Regions from separate parts of the Homo sapiens genome. Here all the other regions are reported to be linked to region 1. The links are microRNA targets in miRTarBase. Many come from high-throughput screens and were not tested one by one. Region 1 holds a microRNA gene; each other region holds the end of a gene's coding sequence.
What was found. The annotated mature microRNA hsa-miR-3161 reads CUGAUAAGAACAGAGGCCCAGAU and lies in region 1 at 2,511-2,533, opposite strand. An mRNA with a match to its seed (bases 2 to 7 or 8) in the 3' UTR can be bound and repressed. Matches are read on the target gene's strand: a 7mer-m8 pairs with bases 2 to 8, a 7mer-A1 pairs with bases 2 to 7 and ends in A, and an 8mer does both.

Region 2: the mRNA of SRP54 is a reported target of hsa-miR-3161. Seed matches in the 3' UTR shown: 7mer-m8 at 3,493-3,499.
Region 3: the mRNA of VMP1 is a reported target of hsa-miR-3161. Seed matches in the 3' UTR shown: 7mer-A1 at 1,563-1,569 and 7mer-m8 at 1,642-1,648.
Region 4: the mRNA of TYRP1 is a reported target of hsa-miR-3161. Seed matches in the 3' UTR shown: 7mer-m8 at 1,536-1,542.
Region 5: miRTarBase lists NGRN as a target of hsa-miR-3161. The part of its 3' UTR that is shown has no 7-base or 8-base seed match.
Region 6: the mRNA of PRDX3 is a reported target of hsa-miR-3161. Seed matches in the 3' UTR shown: 7mer-A1 at 3,047-3,053.
Region 7: the mRNA of EFNB2 is a reported target of hsa-miR-3161. Seed matches in the 3' UTR shown: 7mer-A1 at 2,776-2,782 and 7mer-m8 at 2,554-2,560.

Annotation. Positions count from the first base shown.
Region 1 is chr11:48,095,256-48,099,323 of GRCh38, reverse strand. MIR3161 (microRNA 3161) reads right to left here and starts at 2,542; the gene lies at 2,466-2,542. The region is part of intron 1 of PTPRJ (protein tyrosine phosphatase receptor type J); the gene reads right to left. RefSeq lists an enhancer at 1,198-1,698.
Region 2 is chr14:35,028,687-35,032,754 of GRCh38, reverse strand. It overlaps SRP54 (signal recognition particle 54), which reads right to left. Exons shown (of 16, transcript NM_003136.4): 16 at 3,188-3,694. The coding sequence ends at 3,603. Among named protein-coding and RNA genes, the nearest start is that of FAM177A1, 16 kb to the left of the region's middle.
Region 3 is chr17:59,839,635-59,843,702 of GRCh38, forward strand. It overlaps VMP1 (vacuole membrane protein 1), which reads left to right. Exons shown (of 12, transcript NM_030938.5): 12 at 134-2,621. The coding sequence ends at 277. It overlaps MIR21 (microRNA 21), which reads left to right and starts at 1,632; the gene lies at 1,632-1,703. RefSeq lists an enhancer at 678-1,407 and a silencer at 2,693-2,887.
Region 4 is chr9:12,708,502-12,712,569 of GRCh38, forward strand. It overlaps TYRP1 (tyrosinase related protein 1), which reads left to right. Exons shown (of 8, transcript NM_000550.3): 8 at 476-1,784. The coding sequence ends at 681. All of the region lies in intron 3 of LURAP1L-AS1 (LURAP1L antisense RNA 1), which reads right to left. Among named protein-coding and RNA genes, the nearest start is that of TYRP1, 17 kb to the left of the region's middle.
Region 5 is chr15:90,270,976-90,275,043 of GRCh38, forward strand. It overlaps NGRN (neugrin, neurite outgrowth associated), which reads left to right. Exons shown (of 3, transcript NM_001033088.3): 3 at 213-1,236. The coding sequence ends at 813. It also overlaps the pseudogene PERPP2. Among named protein-coding and RNA genes, the nearest start is that of NGRN, 7.3 kb to the left of the region's middle.
Region 6 is chr10:119,164,761-119,168,828 of GRCh38, forward strand. It overlaps PRDX3 (peroxiredoxin 3), which reads right to left. Exons shown (of 7, transcript NM_006793.5): 7 at 2,960-3,773. The coding sequence ends at 3,720. It overlaps SFXN4 (sideroflexin 4), which reads right to left and starts at 954. Exons shown (of 14, transcript NM_213649.2): 1 at 777-954. The coding sequence starts at 887. RefSeq lists silencers at 405-591, 633-1,102.
Region 7 is chr13:106,489,346-106,493,413 of GRCh38, forward strand. It overlaps EFNB2 (ephrin B2), which reads right to left. Exons shown (of 5, transcript NM_004093.4): 5 at 400-4,068. The coding sequence ends at 3,695. LOC124903247 (a long non-coding RNA gene) reads left to right here. Exons shown (of 2, transcript XR_007063940.1): 2 at 1-455. Among named protein-coding and RNA genes, the nearest start is that of EFNB2, 44 kb to the right of the region's middle. RefSeq lists enhancers at 3,135-3,635, 3,783-4,068.

The DNA of each region.
Region 1 (4,068 bases):
TAGATTTTGTTTTCTCCACCCATTTAAAAATGTGGAAACTATTCTTGGCTCTTGGGCCACCCAAAAACAAGCAGTGGCTGCATTTGGCCCATGGGCTATAGTTTGCTGACCCTTCCCCTGAATCATCCATTTACCCTGGACAGAGCCACAGGGATGGACCCGCAGCAGCTCAGAGCAGGGACCATGTGGTCTAGTCCTGATTCTATATCCTGGTTCTGATGATTACTAGCTTGAGATCTGAGCTAAATTTCGATCTTCCCCTCTGAAAGGAAGGATTATGGCAGGACTCTCCTCAAGCCCTTGAGAGAATTAAGCGAAATAACATCAGGCAGGAGGCAGATGTTCGAGAGAAGATAACTCTGTTATTACTATCATTGTTTCTAGATTTCAATCAACCCAATTTAAGAACACAGGGTCTCAATCCTTGTCTGAATTTCCAATTGGAGATTTTTGGTGGATAAGACATGGGAAGGAACAAATGAATACAGGTTATTTAAGAGATAAAGGCCGGGCGCGGTGGCTCACGCCTGTAATCCCAGCACTTTGGGAGGCCGAGACGGGCGGATCACGAGGTCAGGAGATCGGGACCATCCTGGCTAACACGGTGAAACCCCGTCTCTACTAAAAATACAAAAATTAGCCGGGCATGGTGGCGCGTGCCTGTAGTCCCAGCTACACAGGAGGCTGAGGCAGGAGAATGGCGTGAACCCGGGAGGCGGAGCTTGCAGTGAGTCGAGATCGCGCCACTGCACTCCAGCCTGGGCGACAGAGCGAAACTCCGTCTCAAAAAAAAAAAAAAAAAAAAAGAGATAAAATGATTTGAAATGTGGGTCCACTGGCAACAGAGGATGGTGCCTGGTGGTCAAGGCTGTGGGACCACAGCTGCCTTCTCAAAGCAGGCCCTGTGGTGTCCAGGACTTATGCAGCCTGGCCCACTCTGTGAGCCTCGGCATAAGCCTTGCATTTCCATAGATTTACCTTATCCCGCTAGTTACAGTAGAAACTGTTGAGGTAAGAGAAGTCACACACTTCCTACCCACCAGAGCCTAGCTCGTGGCCTTCCCCATTAAATGCTGATTCAGCACCCCCAGGGAACAGGCTAGTGAGTGGAGTTTTAATGGGATTTTCAGGGCCTGGAACAGAGCTGGCCTGGCCTCTTGTGGGTCAGACTGAATAGGCATGCGCGGACACCAAAGCCTCAAGGGCAAGCAGTGGAACTGTGTGATCAGTCATAAAGGGGACAAGATCCTAGGGATTGTCTATACCGACATCCTCTGTTTGGAGTTGAGGAAAAAGGCCCAGAAAGGTAAAGTGACTTATCCAGAACACCTGGATCTGAAACTCATTCATTCATCCCCTTCACTGACTGTGTCCCCTAAGTCAGGCCCTTTGAGCTCTCTAGGGACGGAGTGAAAGCCCCCTAGTCTTGGGTTGCTTAAAGGCCAGCAAAACCAAGAAATAAATAAACAAAACAAAAAAAAATTCAGGCCGGGTGCGGTGGCTCATGCCTGTAATCCTAGCACTTTGGGGGGCTGAGGCTGGGGATTGCCTGAGCTCAGGAGTTTGAGACTAGCCTGGGGCAACACGGTGAAACCCCGTCTCTACTAAAATACAAAAACTTAGCCGGGCTTGGCAGTGTATACCTGTAGTCCCAGCTACTCGGGAGGCTGAGGCAGGAGAATTGCTTGAACCCGGGAGGCGGAGGTTGCAGTGAGCTGAGATCACGCCACTACACTCCAGCCCATGCAACAAAGTGAGACTCCATCTCAAAAAAAAAAAAAATTTTCTTCAGGTGGAACCATTTAATCTGGCAAGAACAACTTTTCACATCTTACCATTTTATGTCTCCACTTGATCTTGTTCTGAACTTTTCAACATACACACTATCTTAAAAAACAACAGATGTAAATCAATGCTTATGTAAAGGAAAGGGTGAGTCACAAAAGCAGGACTCACATTTCAGGTACATTTTTCCATGTATCAACATACCTCAAATTCCCTGAATGAGCCATGTTGTCATCCCCTACCTTGGTTCATGCTGGTCCTACTACCTAGAAAGTGAGAGCTTCCTCACTCCCTCCTTTGCCCACTTAATTCCTGCTTATCCTTCTATGAGGACGAGCATAAACTCCCCTCCCCCAGCACAGCCAGAGCCTTCCTCAGTGGGTCCACGCAGCACTCACCTCTTACCACCAGGTGCTGGAATGTCTGTGGACCGGCCTGAGACTCGATACCCCATGCCTAGCACTTGAACTGACTGGCAGGGGGTCTGGCTGAATGGGGAACAGGAGGGTGGGCTGAAGGATGAGAGCAGGGACAAGGTCTGGGTGTGAAAATTAAATTTGATTTGGACAGCCGGAAGGAACCCAGAAGAGCACTCAAGCCAAGAAGAAGGTGAGAAAAAATTTCAATGGCAAGAAATCACAAAGGAGTAGTTCTCACAGGCTAGGAGGTAGCAGAACCATCCAGGGAACTTGGTAAAAACAAAGGCCCAGCACTATTCAACTTCAATCTGGGCCTCTGTTCTTATCAGCTCTCGAGGTGACTCAAAACCCTCTCCAAAGTTTGAGAACTACTGGCTTCAGGTACTTTAGAGAGACAATGTGGAAGGATGATGCAGCCCAGGGTCTGCTCTGATCTGAGGCAGCCACAGCCACAAGCCCCCAGGAAGGGCCTCAACAGCTCTGGGGGGTGAACTGAGGGGTGGTTTGGTTTGAGGAAAACTCAATCCAGAATAAATTGAAGACGTTCTTTAATGGTCTTTAAACAAACAAGGTTGTGGGGGTGGGGGCGGGCGTGGGAAACTGTTGGGCTAAAACCAGGATAGTTTTGGCGGAGAAAGTGGCCAAAGGGAGTGTCTCCCTCCGATGCCCTGTAAACTTCTGATAGCTTCTTCCAGTTCTCCCTTCAACAAATCCAGCAATCCAACAAATCTTAAAAACAATCCCATCGGCCTTCGCAGGAATTTGGGCTAAGAGTGATTTTCCTCACTAAGAACTCCATACGGTTTTCATACCAAGGTCAGGAAGAACAATCCTCTGCCCCACCCCCAGCGCCTGGCAGATCGTTTTCCTGCCTGCTGACCAGCATCATCTGTCCACACAGCACACGGTGGGTCACACTGCAGAGCCGTGCTTTGCTTTGTGTGCTTTCAGGAAAGAAAATCGACACTTAAAAGGCACAATGGGTGCAGACAAATTCTGTAAACGGCAATGAACTGTGATCAACTGAGTAAGTCAGCAATTTACAGAAAAAGAACAATGCTGTGGGAGTCAGGGCTGAGTTTGAGTCTCTGCCCCATAACCCACTAGCTGAATGCCATGGGTGAGCCACCAATTCTCCTGAAGTGTCAGTTTCCACATATTCATGGGGGAGCAATGTGGCCAACCACGGCTGTGGCAGGAAAGAACTTCTGCAAGCTCTTGCACAAAATAGATGCTTGAGGCAGGGCATGGTGGCTCATGCCTATAATCCCAGCACTTTCAGAGGCCGAGGTGGGTGGATCACCTGAGGTCAGGAGTTCAAGACCAGCCTGGCCAACATGGCAAAACCCTGTCTCTACTAAAAATACAAAAATTAGCTGGGTGTGGTGGCGTGCACCTGCAATCCCAGCTACGAGGGAGGCTGAGGCAGGAGAAATCACTTGAACCTGGGAGGTGGAGGTTGCAGTGAGCTGAGATCATGCCACTGCACTCCAGCCTGGGTGACAGAGCAAAAACTCCATCTCAAAAAAAAAAAAAAAAAGTATATGTTTGATAAACATTATAGCTGGCTATACCCATAAGGTGCACTCGTCTTCAGAAGTAGCAACATTTGGCTTTGAACAAAAGATATTCTCCCTCTCCTCCTACCCTTCTCTCTCTCTCTCCCTCTCAAACACACAATGGTATTTTACCCAGTTGAAGATCATTATTAGCTATTAACAATAACTACCACATTGTACAAATAAATTGCATTACAGAAAGAGTTGCTCTCTTCCAAAGTTTGCATTAACAAAGAAAAAGCAAAAATTCTCAAAGTCTCATAAGTCCAGTCCATCTTTCTTTGCCATCTAATAAAACACTTTTT
Region 2 (4,068 bases), not on the chromosome of region 1:
TCTGGAACTCTTGGGCTCAAGTGATCAGCCCACCTCAGCCTCCCAAAGTGCTGGGATTACAGGCATGAGCTACTGCATTCAGTTGTTTTTTAGATGAGGCCTCCCTATGTTGCCAAGGCTGGAGTGCAGTGGCTATTCATCAGCAGTGACTATTCATAAATAATCATAGTTCATTGTGACCACCAACTCCTGGACTCAAGCAATTCACTGATTTGCCCACCTCAGCCTCACAAGTAGCTGGTACTACAGGTGTGTGTCAATGTCTTGTCGCTGTGCCTATCTTGTTATTGTTATTTTTGCTTCTGAAAAATATATAAAATATATATATATATATTAAAAAATATTGTTTGTGTCAGACACACAAATATTTAAAACTATGCCTGAAGCCATCAAGGTTATTATGGCCAAAGATTTCAATTTCCTTTTTTGGTCAAAATGCAAAATTGATACCCTGAGAATAGAGTCACAAACGTGTACCTAGAAAAGGTAGTATGCATCAGTTAGTAAGAAACTACTTTGGAGAACAGGATTTTCTCTGTTGTCAAATGTTTATAGCTTAGTAAGATTTCTGCAGAACACAAGATACATCATTTTAATATGGTATATAATTTTCTACAGGGTTATTCTAGTCTTTAGCTAGCAGAAAAACTAGCTAAAACCTTTTTATTTTAGTTTTTAAAGGGATATAAAACCTTTGCCCAAGTTAACAAGAATATCTCAATTGCATTCTTTTTTTTGAGATGAATTTTCACATTTTTGTTGCCCAGCCTGGAGTGCAGTGGTCCGATCTCAGCTCACTGCAACCTCCGCCTCCCGGGTTCAAGCAACTCTACTGCCTCAACCTCTCAAGTAGCTGGGATTCCAGGTGCCCACCACCACACCCGGCTAATTTTTATTTTTATTAGACACGGGGTTTCACCACGTTGGCTGGGCTGGTCTTGAACTCCTGAACTCATGATCCACCCGCCTCGGCCTCCCAAAGTGCTGGGATTACTGGCGACAAGATCTTTTTTAAACAAGAGTCATAAAAAATTAGCACCATAAAAACTGTTTCTTTCATTCTTACTTCTACAAATCAATCACTTGCTGAAGATCAGTTCACACTAATTCAAAATACACTGTTATACCATATATATTATCTACTTGATGTCAATAATGAATAGGCATAATATTAATAAATTATTCCAGTATTTTCAATTCCTTAATTTATTTAAAAGCCATTGTTCTAAATGAACCATGCAGCAATCCAAGATAACCAGAAACCAAATCAACTTTGTCACGGTCTCATGATTTATGTTTTTAACTTTCATTTTAGAATTCAGGTCATTTTTTTTTTTTTTTTTTGAGACGGGAGTCTCGCTCCATTGCCCAGGCTGGAGTGCAGTGGCGCACTCTCAGCTTACCACAACCTCCACCTCCCGAGTTCAAGTGATTCTCCTGCCTCAGCCTCCCAAGTAGCTGGGACTACTAGGTGAGTGCCACCATACCTGGCTAATTCTTTTTTATTTTTGGTAGAGACAGGGTTTCACTATGTTAGCCAAGCTGGTCTTGAACTCCTGACCTCATAATCCACCCGCCTGGGCCTCCCAAAGTGCTGGGATTACAGGCATGAACCACCATGCCTGGCTTTTCTTTTTTTGTTGTTGTTGAAACAAGAGTATTGCTCTTGTCACACAGGCTGGAGTGCAGTGGCGCGATCTTGGCTCACTGCAACCTCTGCCTCCCAGGTTCAAGCGACTCCTCTGTCTCAGCCTCTCGAGCAGCTGAGATTACAGGTGTCTGCCACCATGCCCAGCTAATTTTTATACTTTCAATAGAGGCAGGGTTTCACCATGTTGGTCAGACTGGTCTCGAACTCCTGTCAGGTCATTATTTTTAATATATAATAGTGACAACCTAATACTTGCAATTATTTTTCCTTTAGAAGATGTATACATTAGCTATTATCATCGAAGTATATCAAGTTCTTCAAGTATATTTTTGGTATGTAGAAAACATAACAAAAATGGCTTTAAAAAAATGAAAGATTAGGCCAAGCATGGTGGCTCATGCCCATAATCCCAGCACTTTGGGAGGACAGAGTGGGCACATCACTCAAGGCCATGAGTTCAAGACCAGCATGGCCAACATGGTGAAACCTCATCTCTACTAAAAATACAAAAATTGGCCAGGCGCAGTGGCTCATGCCTGTAATCCCAGAACTTTGAGAGGCCGAGACAGGTGGATCACCTGAAGTCAGGAGTTTGAGACCAGCCTGGCCAACATGGCGAAACCCCATCTCTACTAAAAATACAAAAATTAGCCAGACATGGTGGTGCGTACCTGTAATCCCAGCTACTAGGGAGGCTGAGGCAGGAGAATTGCTCAAACCTGGGAGGTGGAGGTTGCAGTGAACCGAGATCATGCCATTGCACTTCAGCCTGGGTGACAGAAGGAGACTCTGTCTCAAAAAAAAAAAAAAAAAAATTAGCCAGGTGTCTTGTCACATGCCTGTAATCCCAGCTACTCAGGAGGCTAAGGCAGGAGAATCACTTGAACCTGGGATGCAGAGGTTGCAGTGAGCCGAGATCGTGCCACTGCACTCCAGCCTGGGCAACAAAGCAAGACCCTGTCTCAAAAAAGAAAAAAAAAAAATCAATGATTGGCTGGGTGCACTGGCTCAGGCCTGTAATCCCAGCACTTTGGGAGACCAAGGCAGGAGGATCACTTGAGCTCAGGAGTTCCAGACCAGCCTGGGCATGAGCCACCATGCTTGGCCTCTTCTTTTTTTTTTTTCTTTTGAGACAGAGTCTCACTCTGTCACCCAGGCTGGAGTGCAGAGGCGCGATCTCGGCTCACTGCAATCTCTGCCTCCCGGGTTCAAGAGATTCTCATGCATCAGCCTCCCGAGTAGCTGGAACTACAGGCATGCATCACTACGCCCAGCTAATTTTTGTAGTTTTAGTAGAGACGGGGTTTCCATGTTGGCCAGGCTGGTCTTGAACTCCTGACCTCAGGTGATCCTCCTTCTGTCACCCAGGCTGAAGAGATCCACACTTCAGCCTCACAAAGTGCTGGGATTAGAGGCGTGAGCCACCGTGCTCGGCCCCAGGCATAGTTTTAAATGACATTTATCTACTGGCTTTTCCATTGAGTTTTTAGTGTGATAAACTGATAATGTTTAACCATAAAGAAAGTTAACAACCCCTTAACTTATAACCACTTTGAAGTTTATTTTACAGCACTTTAATTGAAACATTATTTAACTACTGACCAGGACTGTTTACAAATGCAATGCTTGGCCTTCGAGATAATTAAAAACCTTTAAGTACTAAAATTTTACATCATGATTTAACTTAAGTGTTATGATGGTGAAAACAGAAGAAAATCTAAAGCAAACATATAATGATTTCCACAAAAACCATGTATTTCTCCCTTATATTAAAGGGAGGAAAGAAGGAAGGAAAAAGAAAAGGAGGGGAAAAGCGGGCGAGAAGAAAAGGAAAGAGTGCATGATAAGCAAGAAAAATACACTTTCCCCCCAATTCGCAAAAAGAAGGGAAACGCTGAGGTCTCAGCAAATTAGGTATTCAACTGAGTCAGTTTATATTAAGGCATTTTCTTTACATATTATTGAATCCCATCATGCCTTTCATGTTGCCAGCAGCACCCTGTTGAAACTGCCTCATCATTGACTGAAGTCCTGCCATACCACCTAGAGCAAAAGTAGGGAAGTAGAGTTAAAAACAGAGAATTATTAAGCAGAACTGGAAACATTTATTACTTTTGCCTAATAAGTACTTCTAAAAATACTGAATTCTGATTGCAATTTAGTCATCAGCCTTAAAGAACGTACCACCTAAAAATTTGTATTATCACCAGTTATCTTCATCAATAAAAGAGAATGAATAGCCTATCTTACGGAGTTATTGCGAGGAATAAATGAGGTGATACATAAAAAGATCTTAGGATACTACCGGTCACATAGTCAATAAATCTAAACAAAAAATTTTTTTCTTATAAATCCAAAAGGGTCTTACTCTAAGTTACATAAAAAATAATCAATAGGGGATTATTTCATAGGACTTA
Region 3 (4,068 bases), not on the chromosome of region 1:
GGGTTGCTTACTTTTCATTTTTAATTCTTTAGGTTTTGTAAGTTACACACTTCAAGCATTATAGATGATCCTCTTTTTACTACTGAACTAATGAAGCCTTTTTCATTGCATTGTTCTGCATTTATTTCTACAGGGAGAAAACTGGTTGTCCTGGATGTTTGAAAAGTTGGTCGTTGTCATGGTGTGTTACTTCATCCTATCTATCATTAACTCCATGGCACAAAGTTATGCCAAACGAATCCAGCAGCGGTTGAACTCAGAGGAGAAAACTAAATAAGTAGAGAAAGTTTTAAACTGCAGAAATTGGAGTGGATGGGTTCTGCCTTAAATTGGGAGGACTCCAAGCCGGGAAGGAAAATTCCCTTTTCCAACCTGTATCAATTTTTACAACTTTTTTCCTGAAAGCAGTTTAGTCCATACTTTGCACTGACATACTTTTTCCTTCTGTGCTAAGGTAAGGTATCCACCCTCGATGCAATCCACCTTGTGTTTTCTTAGGGTGGAATGTGATGTTCAGCAGCAAACTTGCAACAGACTGGCCTTCTGTTTGTTACTTTCAAAAGGCCCACATGATACAATTAGAGAATTCCCACCGCACAAAAAAAGTTCCTAAGTATGTTAAATATGTCAAGCTTTTTAGGCTTGTCACAAATGATTGCTTTGTTTTCCTAAGTCATCAAAATGTATATAAATTATCTAGATTGGATAACAGTCTTGCATGTTTATCATGTTACAATTTAATATTCCATCCTGCCCAACCCTTCCTCTCCCATCCTCAAAAAAGGGCCATTTTATGATGCATTGCACACCCTCTGGGGAAATTGATCTTTAAATTTTGAGACAGTATAAGGAAAATCTGGTTGGTGTCTTACAAGTGAGCTGACACCATTTTTTATTCTGTGTATTTAGAATGAAGTCTTGAAAAAAACTTTATAAAGACATCTTTAATCATTCCAAAATTGTGTCCGTTTTCTTGAGCGTTTTGATTTTTTACTTTTAGCTTATACCAGCTGAATGGCAGCCTTGCCTAATCCACCTACAACAAGAATTTCTTAAGCTTTCTTTTATTTGCATGAGAGAGCCACTACCAAGGCATGTTTTGTTATGCTGAAACTGGGCTGCTGCATACTGCTAAATGGCACCTCTGGGATTGGCCTACCTGGGGATTTCTTGGTTTGTGAAAACAGGAGAGGAGAAATATCTCATACAAGTGAAAGGATACTGGAGAGAGAAATTACCCATTTCTAAAAAAAAACCACACTCTGTCGTATCTGTGTTAATGTTTTCTAGCATGTACTCTGGTTTCAACAGACACAAATTTATATGTTAACCCAGTTTTCTTGCCGTTCTGTAAGTGTTTTATTCTTAGTGTGATTTTTTTCCATTGGGATGTTTTTGATTGAACTTGTTCATTTTGTTTTGCTTGGGAGGAAAATAAACAATTTTACTTTTTTCCTTTAGGAGCATTATGAGCATTATGTCAGAATAGAATAGAATTGGGGTTCGATCTTAACAGGCCAGAAATGCCTGGGTTTTTTTGGTTTGTTTTTGTTTTTGTTTTTTTATCAAATCCTGCCTGACTGTCTGCTTGTTTTGCCTACCATCGTGACATCTCCATGGCTGTACCACCTTGTCGGGTAGCTTATCAGACTGATGTTGACTGTTGAATCTCATGGCAACACCAGTCGATGGGCTGTCTGACATTTTGGTATCTTTCATCTGACCATCCATATCCAATGTTCTCATTTAAACATTACCCAGCATCATTGTTTATAATCAGAAACTCTGGTCCTTCTGTCTGGTGGCACTTAGAGTCTTTTGTGCCATAATGCAGCAGTATGGAGGGAGGATTTTATGGAGAAATGGGGATAGTCTTCATGACCACAAATAAATAAAGGAAAACTAAGCTGCATTGTGGGTTTTGAAAAGGTTATTATACTTCTTAACAATTCTTTTTTTCAGGGACTTTTCTAGCTGTATGACTGTTACTTGACCTTCTTTGAAAAGCATTCCCAAAATGCTCTATTTTAGATAGATTAACATTAACCAACATAATTTTTTTTAGATCGAGTCAGCATAAATTTCTAAGTCAGCCTCTAGTCGTGGTTCATCTCTTTCACCTGCATTTTATTTGGTGTTTGTCTGAAGAAAGGAAAGAGGAAAGCAAATACGAATTGTACTATTTGTACCAAATCTTTGGGATTCATTGGCAAATAATTTCAGTGTGGTGTATTATTAAATAGAAAAAAAAAATTTTGTTTCCTAGGTTGAAGGTCTAATTGATACGTTTGACTTATGATGACCATTTATGCACTTTCAAATGAATTTGCTTTCAAAATAAATGAAGAGCAGCTGTCCTTCTTTCCTCTTTTAAGTGTTCAGCTGTGGCATGCTCAGAGGTTCCTGCTGGATTCCAGCTGGAGCGGTGTGATACCCTTCTTTTTCAGCTGTTCGTGCCTTCCTTTCTTGTATCCACCAAAGTGGAGACAAATACATGATCTCAAAGATACACAGTACCTACTTAATTCCAGCTGATGGGAGACCAAAGAATTTGCAAGTGGATGGTTTGGTATCACTGTAAATAAAAAGAGGGCCTGGGAATTCTTGCGATTCCATCTCTACTTTGTATAAGTCTCATTTTGTGCCTTACACATCTGCAGTATTTATCATGTTCCAACTTGGTGACTGTCAGGCAGTGCAATACATCAGCAGTTTATCACCGAAGAGCTGAGGAATACCTCCCTTAAAACAGACAATGTCGGCCGGGCGCGGTGGCTCACACCTGTAATCCCAGCACTTTGGGAGGCCAAGGCGGGCAGATCACCTGAGGTCAGGAGTTTGAGACCAGCCTGGCCAACATGGCGAAACCCCATCTCTACTAAAAATATAAAAAATTAGCCGGGCGTGGTGGTGCACGCCTGTAATCCCAGCTATTCAGGAGGCTGAGGCAGGAGAATCCCTTGAACGCAGGAAGCAGAGTTTGCAGTGAGCCGAGATGGCGCCACTGCACTCCAGCCTGGGTGACAGAGCAAGACAAAAAAAATAACAGATGATGTCATATGAAAATGTGCAATGTCCAGTTTTCCCATAGTTTTCTGTATTCTCTGTGTGCATAATCTGGAGTATGAGTCTGGGAAGAAAAAGGTTTTTAGTTTCATTTGGATAGTGGCCACCTCTCCATTCCCTACGAATGCTAGAATGAAGTTACTTTTTTTTTTTTTTTTTTTTTTTTTGAGACAGAGTCTTGCTCCGTCGCCCAGGCTAGAGTGCAATGGTACAATCTCGGCTCACTGCCACTTCCGCCTCCCAGGTTCAAGCGATTGTCCTGCCTCAGCCTCTGGAGTAGTTGGGATTCCAGGCGCCCACCACCACACCAGGCTAGTTTTTGTATTTTTAGTAGAGACGGGGTTTGGCCATGTTGGTCAGGCTGGTCTCGAACTCCTGACCTGAGGTGATCCACCTGCCTCGGTCTCCCAAAGTTCTGGGTTCACAGACGTGAGCCACCATGCCCACGTAGAATGAAGTTTCTTAAATACACTAGTTAATTATTGAAACATATGCAGTATTGAGTGCTCCTACACAAACACGCTCAGCCTCTGCCCCCAGTGTGCTCTGTGCTATCCACAGCCTTAGTAGAACATGAGGCTTTTTGTCATTTCACCAGTCATTCAATAATGACTCATTTGAGTATGGATCATGCACTAGCTAAATAACCAGTTGCGCTCATGTACCCTGAAGCAAATTGTTTAGCCTGACCCATGTGTAAGAAGATCACAGAGATTCCCAACCTTTCAGTGTCAAAAAGCCTTTCCATATATATTACTTTAAAACCCATTTTCCCCCATGTGTAATAGTCTATGTTAATGACGGTTCGGGTTTCTTCTACATTGTTTGTGACCTGAGAAAGTTTAAAAGAGCCTCAGTTTCTTTCATCTATAAAAATAAAAGAGATAGAAGGACAGTTTACCTAAGGAATAAATCTGGTAACATGTAAAGTACTGAAATAGGCTGGGTGCAGTGGCTCATGCTTATAATCCTAATACTTTGGGAGGCCAAGGCAGGAGGATC
Region 4 (4,068 bases), not on the chromosome of region 1:
GCCCCAATTTTTCTACTATACCATATTGCCTGCATTTATCTATCTTAAAGGAAAAGGGAGTGAGATACTCTTAGGTATTTTTCTGAGATTTTGAAGTTCAAAAGTTTTTTGTTTAAATCTTTTCCCCAACAAAGGCAGTAGGGCATAGTGGAAAAGTACAAGACTTATATTCTAAAATATCCGGGCTCCAAAGCCAACTTTATTGCTTACCAACCAAGTGACCTGGGTAAGTGACTCAGACTCATTGAGTCATCATTCTCTCACTTTCACAAAATGAAATGGAAATAACAATGACTATCCCAATAGGGTCCACTCATTAAAAGAAATCAGGAAGTGGCTTCAAGGCCATGTGGCCAATGTAAATTAAATATGAGGATTTCTGTTAAAATAGACATTTCTAAATTTCATCTGTCCACTTTTTGGTGATAACTATTTTAATATTTGTCTTTTTATTTTTATCTTCCTTTCCAAATAGGTCGGGAGTTTAGTGTACCTGAGATAATTGCCATAGCAGTAGTTGGCGCTTTGTTACTGGTTGCACTCATTTTTGGGACTGCTTCTTATCTGATTCGTGCCAGACGCAGTATGGATGAAGCTAACCAGCCTCTCCTCACTGATCAGTATCAATGCTATGCTGAAGAATATGAAAAACTCCAGAATCCTAATCAGTCTGTGGTCTAACAAATGCCCTACTCTCTTATGCATTAGTATCACAAAACCACCTGGTTGAATATAATAGATTGAGTTATTAACTGTATTTTCTTTCACTTTATTACCTTCTTTCTAATACAAGCATATGTTAGCATTAAAGTTCTAGGCATACTTTTCAAAGCTGGGAAGACCCTTTCAGAATCTTTTCAATGGGTTTTAATTTTCAGTTCTATTTAAAATGGTGAATGACACTAAACTCCATGATATTTAAGGATAGTGTGAAGATCTTTGGCATGATTTAAAGGTTGAGTATGTGAAGATATAAGTAAGTGAACTACCATGCTTTGTTTACGTGTAAAGGAAAATAATGTTTGATAGTAAATGTCCACTTAAAATACATGAATGGGCATTTCTAAAATGTTAAAACATAAACACATTTCCATTCATGGATATTTGTCAACAGATTTAAAGAAAACCACAGTTATTAATTAAAGAAAATTAATTATGTGTAGTTATAAACCAATGAAATTTTGATTAACCTTTTCAAATTAATGTTCCAGTTTGAAGACCAATCAAATATATTATTTAGTCAACATATACTATTTAGTCTCAGGTTCAAGGCTACAACAAAAATCACCATCTTTGTCAAACTTTGGAGAGGGAAAATCTTCACTTTCTTAAGCAACAATGGATATTGCCTGTGTTTGCCACTGTGTTTCCCTGCCTCTCAATTCGCTGAAAAAGGAACTACCTATCCTTACATTTCACCTACTAATGTCTCTTCTAACATCTTAGAGGTCCATGGAGAAGGCATATGGAGAACATGTTTTATACTGCTCTATAAATAGTATTCCAATCACTGTGCTTAATTTAAATAGCATTATCTTATCATTTATCAGCCTTTTATGTATTTTCCAAGTAAAATATTAACATATTATTTCATTGGTCTTCTTTTTTATCTGGTTCTATATGAATGCTATTTTTTCCCTTCTCTTCTAACATGAAATATATTTTCTCTTTTTGATCTTGTGCTATGAAACAATCTTCCAAAGAACTGTATAAGGTGGTCATAAGTGAATATTTTAATTAAAATTGGTAAAAATAAATAATAACAGTAATAATCATGCACTATAGAAAATGGCTAAACTGAGATTCTAAATTCTACAAACAGAAACAAGTTTAAGTTATGTATCCCTGATTGGTTACTGGGTTTTCCTATATTCAAAAATATTAAGGCTATATATACACAAGATAAACAAATAAAATATATCAAAGAGCATGCATATAACAATAGGATGTTTTACACTAGCATTATTCAATTTATTCTCTTGGAATACATTGCGATTTGTTAAAATACAGTATACTCACAGCTTTTCAAAGAAATTACTGTGTAATGTAAGATGCCTTTTTATATAGAACATCAATGAAACTAAATACTTCACTTTATATTTTTGTAGACTTACTAATTACTCATTTCAGAAACATTTATTAAGCACATACTAGATATCAAGTATTTCAAGGCACTATAGATTTAGAGAGAAGAAAATAAGAATTGTAAAATTGAGAAGGTCATGTTTGACTTGTACTTCAAGGACTGCCAATGGATTTACCAAATATAGAAGCAGAGAAGGGAATTTTATTCAAAAGTGACAGCATGGACAAGGGCACAGAAGTTTAAAAGAGCATGGAACTTTTTAAAATATAAAATAGGTCAGTGTGATTACAGTATAGTTTTTATGGAGGGGAGTAAAAAGATAAATTGGAAATAAAACCAGAGTGTCCTATATGCAATTCTTAATACTTGGAATTAATTCCATGGGAAATAGGAAACAGGGAGAGTCATAATCAAGCTGTATATTTATAAATATAGTAGTGATGGTGCTGTTCACAAATAACGTTGATGAGAAATAATTTGGAATGGTTAAAAGCAAAGAAACTCATTAATATGGAATAGATTGTGGGAGAGAGGAGAAAGCCTTGTTTCAAAGCATTAATTCTAAATAATCATAATTATAAGATAAAGTTGTACACATCTATAAATAAATAAATACAGCTTATATTATAAATACTATATAATATTGAAATTATAAGTATAATATAAATATAGCTTTAAGTAAATCATTACAAAAATGTCAGTTAACAATGGAAGACTGTGAGAGAGAGGATTAAAACAAGAGCAAAACAGAAAACTATTAACAAAATGGCAGTTAGTAAGTCCTCAGCAATCAGTAATTATTTTAATGTAAATGGCTTAATATCCCAAATAAGAATGCTTAAAGTAGCTGAGTGAATCAAAAAACATGATCCAGTGACTTGCTGTCTATAAGAGACTCACTTTAGATTTAAAAATACATATAGGCTGGAAGTAAAGAGATGGAAAAGGATATTATGAAAATGGTAAAAAGAAAAAAAAAAGAAAGCAGGGGAGGCTATCCTATCAGACAAAATAGACAAAGTCAAAAACTTCCTCTAGAGGTGAAGTTCATTATATAATAATAAAAGGGTCAATTTAACAAGATATAACAATTGTAAATATATACATATTCAATATCAGAGCACTTAAATATACAAAGCAAATGTTGATAGATCTGAAAGGAGAAATTGATATCAATACAATACTAGTAGTAGAATCTAATATTCCACTTTCAATAATGTATAAAACATCCAGGTAGGAGATCTATAAAGAAAGAGAGTACTTGAACAACACTGTACACCAGTTGGACTTTAGGGACATATACATTACATACCACTCAACAGCAGCAGAATATTCTTATACTTCAGCAACATGTTCTTCTCAAACACAGGTGGAACATACTCCAGGATAAATTACATCAGACCTCAAAACAAGTCCCCCCAACATTAAAAAGATAAAAGTCATTTCAAAGATCTTTTAAGATCACAATTGAGTAAAATTAGAAATCAATAGTGCAAGAAAGTGGGAAATTCACAATGACGAAAAAACAATACACTCTTAAATAACCATTGGGTCAATTAGGAAATCATAGAGGAATTTAAATTATATCTCAAGGCAAGTGAAAACAAAAACACAACATATCAAAACTTACAAGATCCAGCAAAAGTACTAAAAAGGAATTTTGTAGCAATAAATGCCTACGTTGAAATCTAAGGATCTCAAATGAACAACCTAGCTTATACCTCAAAGAACTAGAAAAAGAACAACAAACTAAGCCCAAAGTTAGCAGAAAGAAATAAATAATGAAAATTAGAGTAGAAATAAGTACAGAATAATAAAACAAGAGAAAATTCAGAAAATTAAGGGTTTTTTTTAAAAAAATAAAAAAATGGACAAACCCTTAGCTAAACTAAGAAGAGGAGAGGACTCAAAATCAGAAATGATAGAGGAAGCATTAAAATGTGTTCCTAAGAAACAAAAGGATCAGAAGAAACTTTTATAAA
Region 5 (4,068 bases), not on the chromosome of region 1:
CAGCTACTTCGGAGGCTCAGGCACAAGAATCACTGGTCTCGAACTCCTGGGCTCAAGTGATCCGCCTATCTCGGCCTCTCAGAGTTCTGGGATTACAGGTGTGAGCCACCATGCCAGGCCTCAACCCCTCTTCTTTATCATAGGTATTGCGAGTTAGATGTTCTGATAGGAGACTTCTTCACAACTTGCAAACCTGCTCCTTCTTCCCGTAGGTATTTACATGAGGAATTTCCAGAGTCCTGGTCAGTTCCCAGGTTGGCTGAAGGCTTTGATGTCAGCACTGATGTGATCCGAAGAGTTTTAAAAAGCAAGTTTTTACCCACATTGGAGCAGAAGCTGAAGCAGGATCAAAAAGTCCTTAAGAAAGCTGGGCTTGCCCACTCGCTGCAGCACCTCCGGGGCTCTGGAAATACCTCAAAGCTGCTCCCTGCAGGCCACTCTGTATCAGGCTCTTTGCTTATGCCAGGGCATGAAGCCTCATCTAAAGACCCAAATCACAGCACAGCTTTGAAAGTGATAGAGTCAGACACTCACAGGACAAATACACCAAGGAGAAGGAAGGGAAGAAATAAAGAAATCCAGGACCTGGAGGAGAGCTTTGTGCCTGTTGCTGCACCCCTAGGTCATCCAAGAGAGCTGCAGAAGTACTCCAGTGATTCTGAGAGCCCCAGAGGAACTGGCAGTGGTGCGTTGCCAAGTGGTCAGAAGCTGGAGGAGTTGAAGGCAGAGGAGCCAGATAACTTCAGCAGCAAAGTAGTGCAGAGGGGCCGAGAGTTCTTTGACAGCAACGGGAACTTCCTGTACAGAATTTGAGTCGGGGCTTGGCTTATGGAGATGCCTCGTGAAACACAGCTGGGCAAGTATTAATGTATATGGAACAGCCTGGATTTCTGCATATGGATAAGCCACCTTGGAATAGGAAGAGGTGTTGAGCCTGGACTGTGGGAGGAAAGAGCTGCGTGGATAGATTCAAACTTCCTGTGGTAGTGCTCCCAGTCTGACCTCTGTAGACCTTCAGTACTCACTCTTCTTGCTTAGGCTCTCTGTGTGTTGAAAGCCATCCCGTGTTGCATGTGTTGTTACAATTTTCTGTGATACTTGCAATTTATGTTTGAGAAGAAGTGAAAAGTTTGCCTTCTGACCTCATTTCCTTCTTGATCAGTGAACACTAACATTTTGGGGACAACTTAGTCAATTGGTTTTCCTTACAACAAAATAAAGTAAAATGTAGCAGTCTGCCTCTTTGGTGCTCTTTGGGGTGGGATGGTTTACCTGTGAACCTTGGAGAGAGGGAAGGACAAAGGCAGAAAGGAAGGATCCCTGGTCAGTAAACATTGGGAGAGAGATGGAACCAGAGGAATTTCCCAGCAAAGGGCTCTGTGCAGAGCATCCTGCTTAGTGAGGGATTCTGACAACTGAAAACTGGACGCCTTTCTTTTAGTTGCTGGGGTTCTGGCAGAGATTGGGAAATGAGGGGTTGGCAGAAAATACAAAGCAGGCAAAGGCTTTAGGGCCCTTATAATCTCCAGCCACATTTTAAAGTTTATATTAAGAGCTGGGCATGGCAGAATGTGCCTACAGTCCCAGTTACTTGGGAGGCCGAGGTGGGAGAATCGCTTGAGCCTCGGAGGTTGAGGCTGCAGTGAGCTATGATTGCACCACTGCACTCCAGCCTGGGATAACAGTGAGACCCCCATCTCTAAATAAAATCAATCGATCTTCAATTATGTCTCATTATACAGTTTACTTAACCAGATTTTTACAATGGTGCCATGGTGTAGGCAATCCCGGATTAAGAGGTCCCTTTTACAAATAAGGAAATAGACTTTAAGATGGCTGCCAGTAAGTGGCAGTGCTGGGACTTAACTCGGGTCTCATCATTAATCCAGGGCTTCTGGAATTCCGGGAATATGGCACTGTCTGCCATAATTTTGTTAATTTACTGCTTGTTTTAGAAATACATCTGTTATAACTAGAAATTCGGGGACAGCTTAGTCAATTTGTTTTCCTTACAAGCAAAATAAAGTAAAATGTAGCAGTCTGCTCATTAGTGCTCTGGTGGGATGGTTTACCTGTGAACCTTGGAGAACCATGTCCTGCTTTCACAATTTACCAGGAAAAATGGCTACTCCGAATTTAAATATATGTAGGACATTAATGGAAACACCTACATTCCAACTCAGTCATTGCCACTCTGTAGAATCTTACTGCTATTTCAAATGTCCAATTACAGCAATTAAAATACTGATTACTGTTGCTTTTATCAATTATTATTGATAACTTGAGGATCTGTTCTCAGTATAAATGACAAAGCCCTGTCACATGCCAAGCAAAATTCTACGATCCAGATGCTGGTAATACAACAGTGGGCAGATAGGACCTTTGCTGTCACTGCCCTGTCACTATCATGTAGTTCATAGTAGAAGCTTATCAGTATTTTTATGGTTTTGTTATATTTATGGTATTTAATTGTTAAAGATGTGTTAGATGCTGTTTGATTGTTTAAATTTGCATTTCTCACTCCTGCAAATATCTGATCATGCCATACCCTTTTCGCAGTGGGCTATAGAAACCTAAAGGCTGTTCTTAAAACTTTGTTTTTTAATTTATTTTTGACACGGACTCTCGCTCTGTCGCCCAGGCTGGAGTACAGTGGCACAATCTCAGCTCACTGCAACCTCCGCCTCCCAGGTTCAACTGATTCTCCTGCTTCAACCTCCCGAGTAGCTGGGATTACAGGCGTCTGCCACTGTGCCCAGCTAATTTTTGTGTTTTTAGTAGAGATGGGGTTTCACCATGTTGGCCAGGCTGGTCTCAAACTCTGACCTCAAGTGATCTGCCTGTCTCGGCCTCCTACAGTGCTAGGATTACAGGTGTGAGCCACCACGCCTGGCCTTTATTTTTCTTTTGAGACAGGGTCTCACTCTTGTCGTCCACACTGGAGTACAGTGGCTCAATCTTGCCTCACTGCAACCTCTGCCTCCCAGGTTCAAGCGGTTCTCATTCTTCAGCCTCCCGAGTAGCTGGAACTACAGGCGGGCACCACCATGCCCAGCTAATTTTTTTTATATTTTTAGTAGAGACAGGATTTCACCATGTTGGCCAAGCTGGTCTCAAACTCCTGACCTCAAGTTATCTACCTGCCTTGGCCTCCCAAAGTGCTGGGATTATAGGCGTGAGCCAACACGCCTGACCTTTATTTCTTTTGAGACAGGGTCTTGCTCTGTCATCCATGCTGGAGTGCAGTGGCTCAATCTCAGCTCACTGCAATCTCTGCCTCCTGGGTTCAAACTATTCTCATTCCTTAGCCTCCCGAGTAGCTGGGACTACAGGCATGCACCACCACACCCAGCTAATCTTTTATTTTTAGTAGAGATAGGATTTCACTATCTTGGCCAGGCTGGTCTCGAACTCCTGTGCTCAGGTGATCTGCCTGCTTCGGCCTCCCAAAATGCTGAGATTACAACGTGAGCCACCACGTGAGGCAGGCGGATCACCTGAGGTCAGGAGTTTCAGACCAGCCTGGCCAACATGGCAAAACCCCATCTCTACTAAAAATACAAAAATTATCTGGGTGTGGTGGCAGATGCCTGTAATCCCAGCTACTGGGAAGGCTGAGGCAGGAGAATTGCTTGAACCCGGGAGGCAGAGGTTGCAGTGAGCCGAGATTGTGCCACTGCACTTCACCTTGGGTGACAGTGAGACTCCATCTCAAACAAACAAACACCTCCAATGCTGTATCTCAAATACCATGTCTACCCTTCTTCCTGCTTTACTTCATCTATTACACAAGTAATACATACTCATTAAAGAAAAAGACAAGCAAAATGAAAACAAAAGTCATCCCTGATCCCACCAGTGAAGAGTTACTATCCTACCAACATTTTTCTAAGCATATGTACAACTTTAAGACAAGCACGAAAGAATAATACTGTGCCAGGCGCGGTGGCTCACGCCTGTGGTCCCAACAGTTTGGGAGGCCGAGGCGGGTGGATCACTTGAGGCCAGGATTTCGAGATTAGCTTGGCCAACATGGTGAAACCCCGTCTCTACTAAAAATACGAGAAT
Region 6 (4,068 bases), not on the chromosome of region 1:
AATTTCCCCACCTAAAAAAAAAACAGGGCTGGACCCCACTTTAGGAGAGGCCTCAAAGAGAACCCCCTAAAGCCCTGCTCTCCAATTCGCCACATGCGGCTGAACCCAGATGTGCTGTGAAGGTAACAGACGCCGGATTTGGAACACTCTGTACCAAAAAAGCGAGTAAAATATCTCAGCAATGTTTTTTACTGATTACATGTTGAAATGTTAATATTTTGCACCTGCTAGGCTAAATGTACTGTATTGTTAAAAATTTCAGCTGTTTTTATCTTGTTTAATGTGGCTACTAGAAAATGTTTAATTACCTGTAAGGCTCACATCATATTTCTATTGGACGGTGCTGCCCTAGACGCTGCAGGGAGATAAGTCCTGCTTATGTCCTGCCCAAGGGTGGCTTCCCAAAGCCTCGGGGGTCTCACCGAAAGTGGCTGAGCTTACCAAGGTGCGAGAGCCTGTTTCTCCCCAATCTGCTGCTCAGCCACAGCTCAGGCAGTAGGGAGCAGCCACCTGCGCGGACTGGGCCCCTCCGAGAGGGCAATCTGGAGGGTGACGTTGTGGTCGTGGGCATCTGGCAGCTTCGATTTCCCCTGCGTCCCCTGCCGCGCCCTAAGGGGTGAAGGCCGGTGGTGCGCGTTCCCGGCACAACTCCGAGAGGAGGAAACGGAGACAGGGGGCGCCCACGTGGCCTGGCCAAGGTCACCCGGGTCAGCCCGACTCCACGCGGCCCGGCCCGCCCCCTCCCTGCCCCTAGTCGCGCCGGGCCCGGGCCGTACTTGGCGCTCGGTGATCCAGAAGCGCACGTTGGGCTCAATGAAGGCGGGGACGGCGTCTCTGCGTCCTAGGAGCCGCCCAGGTTGCGTTTCCTCCTCCTGTTCCAGGGACATTTTGCGCTGGTTAGAGTGGCCGCCGCCGCCAGGCCGCGCGTGGAGGAGGAGCCGGGCGGCGAGCCCCGCCCCGGGCCGCGCGCACCCGCAGTTCCCGCCCCAGGCCCGCGCGCCCGACGTCCCGTGTCACAGCGCCTCGGGGCCCTTGCGCGCCCACTGTTCCGGCGAGCGCAGCTCTCCCACGGGCCACGTCCTCCCAACCCTGCTTGCCCTGCTCCGCACCTTTGGGGAGCCGGGCCGTCTCCAGGCCCCAAGGGGTCACTATCGGAACCCGTCATCACAGTACCTAATGCGAAGACCCGGAAAGGTTGTGAGTGAGGCCGTCCGCAACCTCACCCTGCGCTTCTGCCGCGCCCTACCCCTGGTCATTACCCTCGAAAATCCCTCCGATGGCCCACGAATTCCAGTGTGCATGGTGTTGCGCAGTCAGGCCGGCTGCATCATGGTCTCAGCCCAGGGAAAATGTCAAATGCGGTGCCCCTTATTCATGTTACTGAGAATTTCAAGAGAGTAACACCAGAGCATCAAACCAAGTATAGGGCCCTGGGCACAGTGCACTATCCCTCAGCCCAACAGGTTGTTTTTTTTTTTCTTCCAGTGTTGGGGCAAATCCAGTTCCTTTTGTTGACTACCAAATAGGTACCATTTGTAAAGAAAAACCTGCCTTCCCTTCCTCCTCCCACCTGCCCTTCCCCAGCACAGGGCCAGGCGGGGGCTGTGTGCACTTAAATTCACGGAAGCCACAAGTGTGCCTAGGTCGTTCAGGGGGCCTCCGGAGTCCAGGACTGGGGGACCCAGCACATCATCTAGTTGTGTGACCCTCGCCAAGTCAGTATCTCGAAGTCTATTTTCCCATCCGCAAAATGAGGATAACAATTGTACCTATCTCAGGGTTTTGTTTCTGATCAAAGGAGATAAAACATCCCTAACACAGCACTGAGCCCTCAGAAGTGCTCAGTATTGGCCATTAACCTCCAGCGGGCCAATTCCTTCCCTTGCCCTGCGCCTCCAGGAACAGGAAATTGGCTCATGGCGTCCTTCAGGCCTGTATGACTCTGCTTCTGTATTTGCTCAGTTTGCCTAGCTCACTTTTCTTAACCTCCAGGGGTTTATCTCCTCTTCCAGGAAGCCTTCCCTGACCCTCCGAGTTGAGTAAGGTGCCCCCTCCACTTCTACCCTTATGCCGCAGAAATCCATCTAAGCACCAGTGCAGTATGTAGCGTGCTGTTCTATTCTGTTGTCTCTACCCTCCAGGATGTCACAAAGCCAGCCCGCTGGCCTGCTTCCCCACTTTGGACTGCTATGTCGTCTTAACAAAGGAGCCAGAGTGATTCTCTTAGAACAAGTTGATGTCACTCTTCTTTTCAAATCCTTCCTGACATTCCCCACCCCAGAACAGAACCTAAAGTCCTTGGCCTGGCCAAAAGGCACTCTGGGACCCCCACCACAGCCATAGTCACCGGCCTCCTAGTAAATCTGCATCCGCTCTGAGCCCACTCTTGCCTCACGGCCTTTGTGTTTTCCCTGCCCTCTGCCTAGAAGTCTCTTATCCCCGTAATACTCTCACTTTCTACGCGTTTTCTCTCCCTCGATGCTCATCAAAACCCTGAGATAAGTACAATTATTGTCCTCATTTTACAATGAGAAAATTGATCCAGAGAGGCTCTCCCTTAAGGCCTTCCTTGACAACCCCATCTAGAACACCTACAACTCCGCTTCAGCAGTTTCACTCCACATTATTTTCCTTCCAAACACTCTACTTTTACTACATGTATGAGGTGTTTCCCCTCTAGAATGTAAGAGCTTAAAAGCAGGGGTTTGTCCGTTGTTCGCTCTTGTGCCTGGAAAACAGCACCTGGTGCGGGGTAGGCACTCAAGGATTTACTGAAACAACGAGAAAATGTTTCCCTATCTGTCTTGCCCCTAAACCGAGTTCCTTGAGTGCGGAACCAGCATCTTATTCTCTTTGTGGCCCCTGAGGTAAATGCTCAATAAATGTTTGTTGATAATCTGAGAAGGAAAGGAGAGCCCAAAATAAGCTGATCCAACAGTTACTGGTGGTAAAATGCAAATGTTTTAAAATATGTTTATTTTGTATGTTTTACAATGAATACTTCAGCAAAGAAAATAATTATAATTTCAAAATGCAATCCCTGGATTTGATAAATATCCTTTATAATCGATTACACTAATCAATATCTAGAAATATACATAGACAAAGTTAGCTAATGAATAAAATAAGTAAAATGACTACATAAACTCAATTTCAGGGATGAGGGATCATGCATGATCAGTTAAGTCACTCTGCCACTTTTTAAAATAATACGATTCACATTTGCTTCAATCACATAAACATTCATTGCAGGAGTTACACGGCTAATCATTGAAAATTATGATCTTTGTTAGCTTAAAAGAAAATTCAGTTTAATACAAAGACATTCAAGATGAAAATTTCAGGACCGTTGATCAGAAGCTTTCAATGTGTGTTGCTCTACTTTATTATAGGCAAGATTCAAGTAAGGCTAAGAAAGAAGAGTGTTTCCATTGAGACATGATCTAAGAATAGCCTTCTATAGAGGCAAATTATGTTCTGTAGAAACTAGCTAGCCAGCCACCAAGATGTTACCAATAAAGGATTCCTTGTACTAGCAACTAACCATGTTTAAAAGGTCTTAGCCAGAATTACAAAAACAAAACATTTAGAGTAATACTTATGAATACAAGCATAATTGGTTCCTTGCCTTCTACAAATAACCATCTTGAAAATGATAAAAGCAGGTTTCAACTGTGGTTCTTCTCTCAGTTGAGAAGGTGCAGATACACATGGGTGATCTACTGATTTACCTTCTGAAAGTACTCTTTGGAAGCAGCTGGACTTGGCTTGATCTGAAAATACAAAAGCTTAATTAGGTAACTGTGACTTTACCATAATAATAGTCCCAAAAGTGAGTGGCAATCTCCCAATTTTTAACCTAAAGTTCTTTAAACTTTTAAAGATTTCCTTTAAAACATAAAGATGAAAGTTTCATTAAGGCCTGCCTGTCTCTAGGCCGGGCACGGTGGCTCACGCCGGTAATCCCAGCACTTTGGGAGGCCAAGGCGGGTGGATCACGAGGTCAGGAGATCCAGACCATCCTGGCTAACACGGTGAAACCCCGTCTCTACTAAAATTCAAAAAATT
Region 7 (4,068 bases), not on the chromosome of region 1:
GACACTAGATCGATCTGGAATTAAGTGTAAGATAAGAGTACATTTCCCTCTTTTTCCTGAGACAGCTAACTTTGTAGGTAACTATTCTGACTGTGCAATTCAGGTGCCACTAGAGAGATTTTCTGTTGAGGATTATTAGGATTTTATACAATTGCATATTATTTTTGAAATGAGAGTTTGTGGTTTTATGGGGAATAACGAGCTCACGGCTCTTAGCAAAATTAATATTTGTGTGATGTGCACATCCCGATTTGAAAAGTGGGCACACAGTGTCCATAGACAGAAGTCTCTGGATTAACTGTAATTTTGGGGGAAATAGAGTAAAGGAAGGCAAATTAAAATAACAAACAAAAAAGAAAGAAAAATGAAAAGAAAAGAAGAAAAGTACTTTGAAGGCACTTTTTCCATAGGAAAAAAATATTTTATTTTTTTAAGAACAAATTCAGTTTGAAACAGATGTGGAATGTGACTTCACGGATTTCATTTTCTGGGGCTAACTGCAATGTGAAACTAAAGCAGATTTAAAACCTATGACAGGCTATTAAAATAAAACAAAGAAAGAAAAAAATATTTATAACTCAGGCATAATACTGTGTTACTTACAAATTGGACAACGAAATTTTAAATAAATATTCATGGTACATAATTACGGCACAAATATGCAGCAATTTGGCAACCTTTTATACCATTTTTTCCTCATTACAGTGCAAAGGGGAATGACACTGCCGTTAAACAAGCTGTAGCTAAATACATTGCAAAATTCAGATTTTATACAAAACATCTTGCTTAGACTTTATAAAAAACCAACATTGCTCTATGTACACAATCTGGGTAAGAAAAGCCATTTCTTTCTTGTTTTCATGTGTATTTTTATTAAAAAGGTGAATAAGGCTACTGTAACACCCCAAATCCATAGACAGTAAAATCTGAACCTATTTACAGCATCTTCACTGAAACATGATGGTGCAAATTCCAAAGTCGGGTGACCAGGGACGATCATACAAGCAAGGCATTTACAGTAACTTTCCAAAGCTAAACCAACTTCAAACAAAGGGACAGTTGGTAGATTGTCATATTCTGCACCAGACACAAAACAGACGCACAGAACACTTTTCAATTGGTTGCAGGGAACTCTTTTATCAATTCATCTGATTTTTCACAGTTTAGCATAGAACCAAAACGTAGCCAACTGATGATACATACATTTGATTTCATTAAAATCAGACTATTTCCCATTTTTCCCCTTCTCGCCCCTCTCCCCCATCCTAAAAGTAACTTCTGATGGCTTACAAGAAACTCTTGCATGAATGCACAGAAAGGAGAGGTTGGGGTGATGGAAAGAATTACATATGTACTGTGGCTGGTTACCATGGCAACCCTCCACAGAAATATGATATAGATATATATAATATATATTGTAGATATATATTATACATATATGTACACATGTATACCACGCACCCACTCACACATACACACACGCACTTTGGACCAACATCATTTCCAGGTTCAGGAAATAGAGGATCATAATTTCTGTGACAACTCATTTTTGCAGGTACTCACTGGAGGTCTGAGAACCTTAAAATGCTGTCGCTACATTTTTTTTCCCTTCCAATTCAGAAAGCAAAGTGTTACCATAGTAACAGGACTATGTTAAAGATGTCTATTTTGCATAGCACATAAAAAGTAGGTTTCCTGTTTACTCTTCTTGTTTCCCAGAAGGGAGGGGGTGCGGGGGAGGACAGGAGGAGGGAGCCACAGCTAAATCGTCACCTGAAGCCCCCAGTGTGACCTGCTGGATTCTAGAGAACACTTCAGCCCATAAGGCAAGGGAAAACCCAACGCAGAAATAAACGCCGGAACATCTTGTCATTGTTAAATATATGATGCAGTCACATCGGCTTCCTGCTCTGTGGGGCTCGTACTTCCTAGTCTACGGTTCCGTGAGATGCCTTCGGAGGACTTGGTTATTTTTGCATTTGCTCTCATTATTGTTCTTTTTGGAATGATGTTGTTTTTCCCAGAAGTAGCTGTCCAATTTGTTTTTTTAAGCGCTGAGCATTGGGACCACTTAATTGCCACAAATGAATTTCACATCTTCTGGTGTGTACTGTGTGCAACCTTAAAATATATATTAGTAAAAATCTTTCATTTTATATCCCTTGTGTTCTATATACCTATTATAAATACGTCCTATCTTCCTTCTCCCCCTGGACATCATAATTTACTTCCGTCTTAAGGACTCTAAGAGGTCTGCCGTATGTGCTTCACCTTGACACAGAGCACCGGGCGCTGCAGCCTCCATCAGTACCGACCCTGCAGCCCTGGCACCCGGACAGCACCGCATAAACCAAAGTGTCGTAAGGCTCAATCGGGAGGGGAAGGAGGAACCTGGGGGGAGGGGGATCTGACCTACCTTTTATAGATAAGGATTCTTTAATAACAACGATGATGATGGAATTACAGCCTGTTTGACCTTTGGCTTTTCAACTTTTAGGTCAGATTTGGCTCTCTGCTATTCTCCTAAATGCTTTCCCTGTGTTTAATAAAATGTGATAAGTATAGCAGCTGAGTCTGCTTAAAAAATCATCCAAAGCAGACCGACTCTCCTACAGCTCGGAGCTGTGTATCTTATTGCCAGTACCACAACAGTCCTGCCCGAATATATCATCAGCGGCCTACTTTCTCCCTTCCCTCCAAGCCTGTTCCTTTCCCAACAATACCCGTCTTTGTTCCCCGGAATGAAGAGGGGCTTTTCTTCCTGCACATCGCTATTTGATAACAGCGAGTGCCTCCCCATGCACTGGAATCCACTGTGTGTGCTGTCGTGTCTCCTACTGGCCTCTTCGATCTCAGCAAAACCAAAGTGCTGTGCTACCTAATTGCTTTTTTCTTTTTTCCTTTCCAACTTTCTGTTTCAGAGGCAGCAGCAGTGAGCTGCAATTGCAGCCAGCCCTTTCCCCAGCCCCACTCCCTTCTATGAACTCCTAGCCTTCTTCGCAGACAGCCTAGCATCTGGCTAAAGGGCACCTTGTTAGCAAACACAATTTCTATGAACGGATTACCCATGGACTGAAGCTGTTGTTGCCAGCGGCTGGAGGAGGGGACTCCAGACATGAGTGTTCCATGAGTGATGCAGATGTGGAGTGGAGGTCTCAGGTGAGGTGCTGCAGAGCCCTGGGTAACAGAACGAGTGAGACAGTAAGGACTAAACTCTAGAGATCTTTGCACACCTTAACTAGCCCGAGGTCCGTGTGACAAGTCCGGTATGCACTGCGGGGGAAATGCACCCCAGGCAGAAGCCGGCCCTTCCAGGCGTGGCATCCTGGGGCACCTGCCAGGATGCTCACAGCCCTCTCGTCCACAAACCACTGTCTTCCCTTGGCTTCTGCAGAGGCCTGAGTGACCGCAGCACATGGCTTCGAGGAGGAGACGTGGGACGCGGCACAGCAGTCCGAATGGGCGTCTTCTGCACAGTCTTCCAGCTTCCAGGGAGCGTGTGTGTTCACCAAGGCCGAATGCTACAAGACTAGGTAAGCTGTCCAGCGCGACGGGCTCTTCCGAGGAGGAGTGTCCCTCTCCCCCGGTGCTGTGCTTCAGTCAATTCTCCAGCACGCGGGCTCTCAAACCCTCAAGGGAGGCATCGGGACATTAGGTGTCCTCTGGGAAAGCACAGGTACCACCAGGGTCCCTCTCAGACCTTGTAGTAAATGTTCGCCGGGCTCTGCGGGGGCATCTCCTGGACGATGTACACCGGGTGCCCGTAGTCCCCGCTGACCTTCTCGTAGTGAGGGCAGAAGACGCTGTCCGCAGTCCTTAGCGGGATGATAATGTCACTGGGCTCTGAGCCGTTGTTGTTGCCGCTGCGCTTGGGTGTGGCCAGTGTGCTGAGCGACAGCGTGGTCGTGTGCTGCGGCGAGTGCTTCCTGTGTCTCCTCCGGTACTTCAGCAAGAGGACCACCAGCGTGATGATGATGACGATGAAGATGATGCATCCTGAAGCAATCCCTGCAAATAAGGCCACTTCGGAACCGAGGATGTTGTTCCCCGAATGTCCGGCGCTGTTGC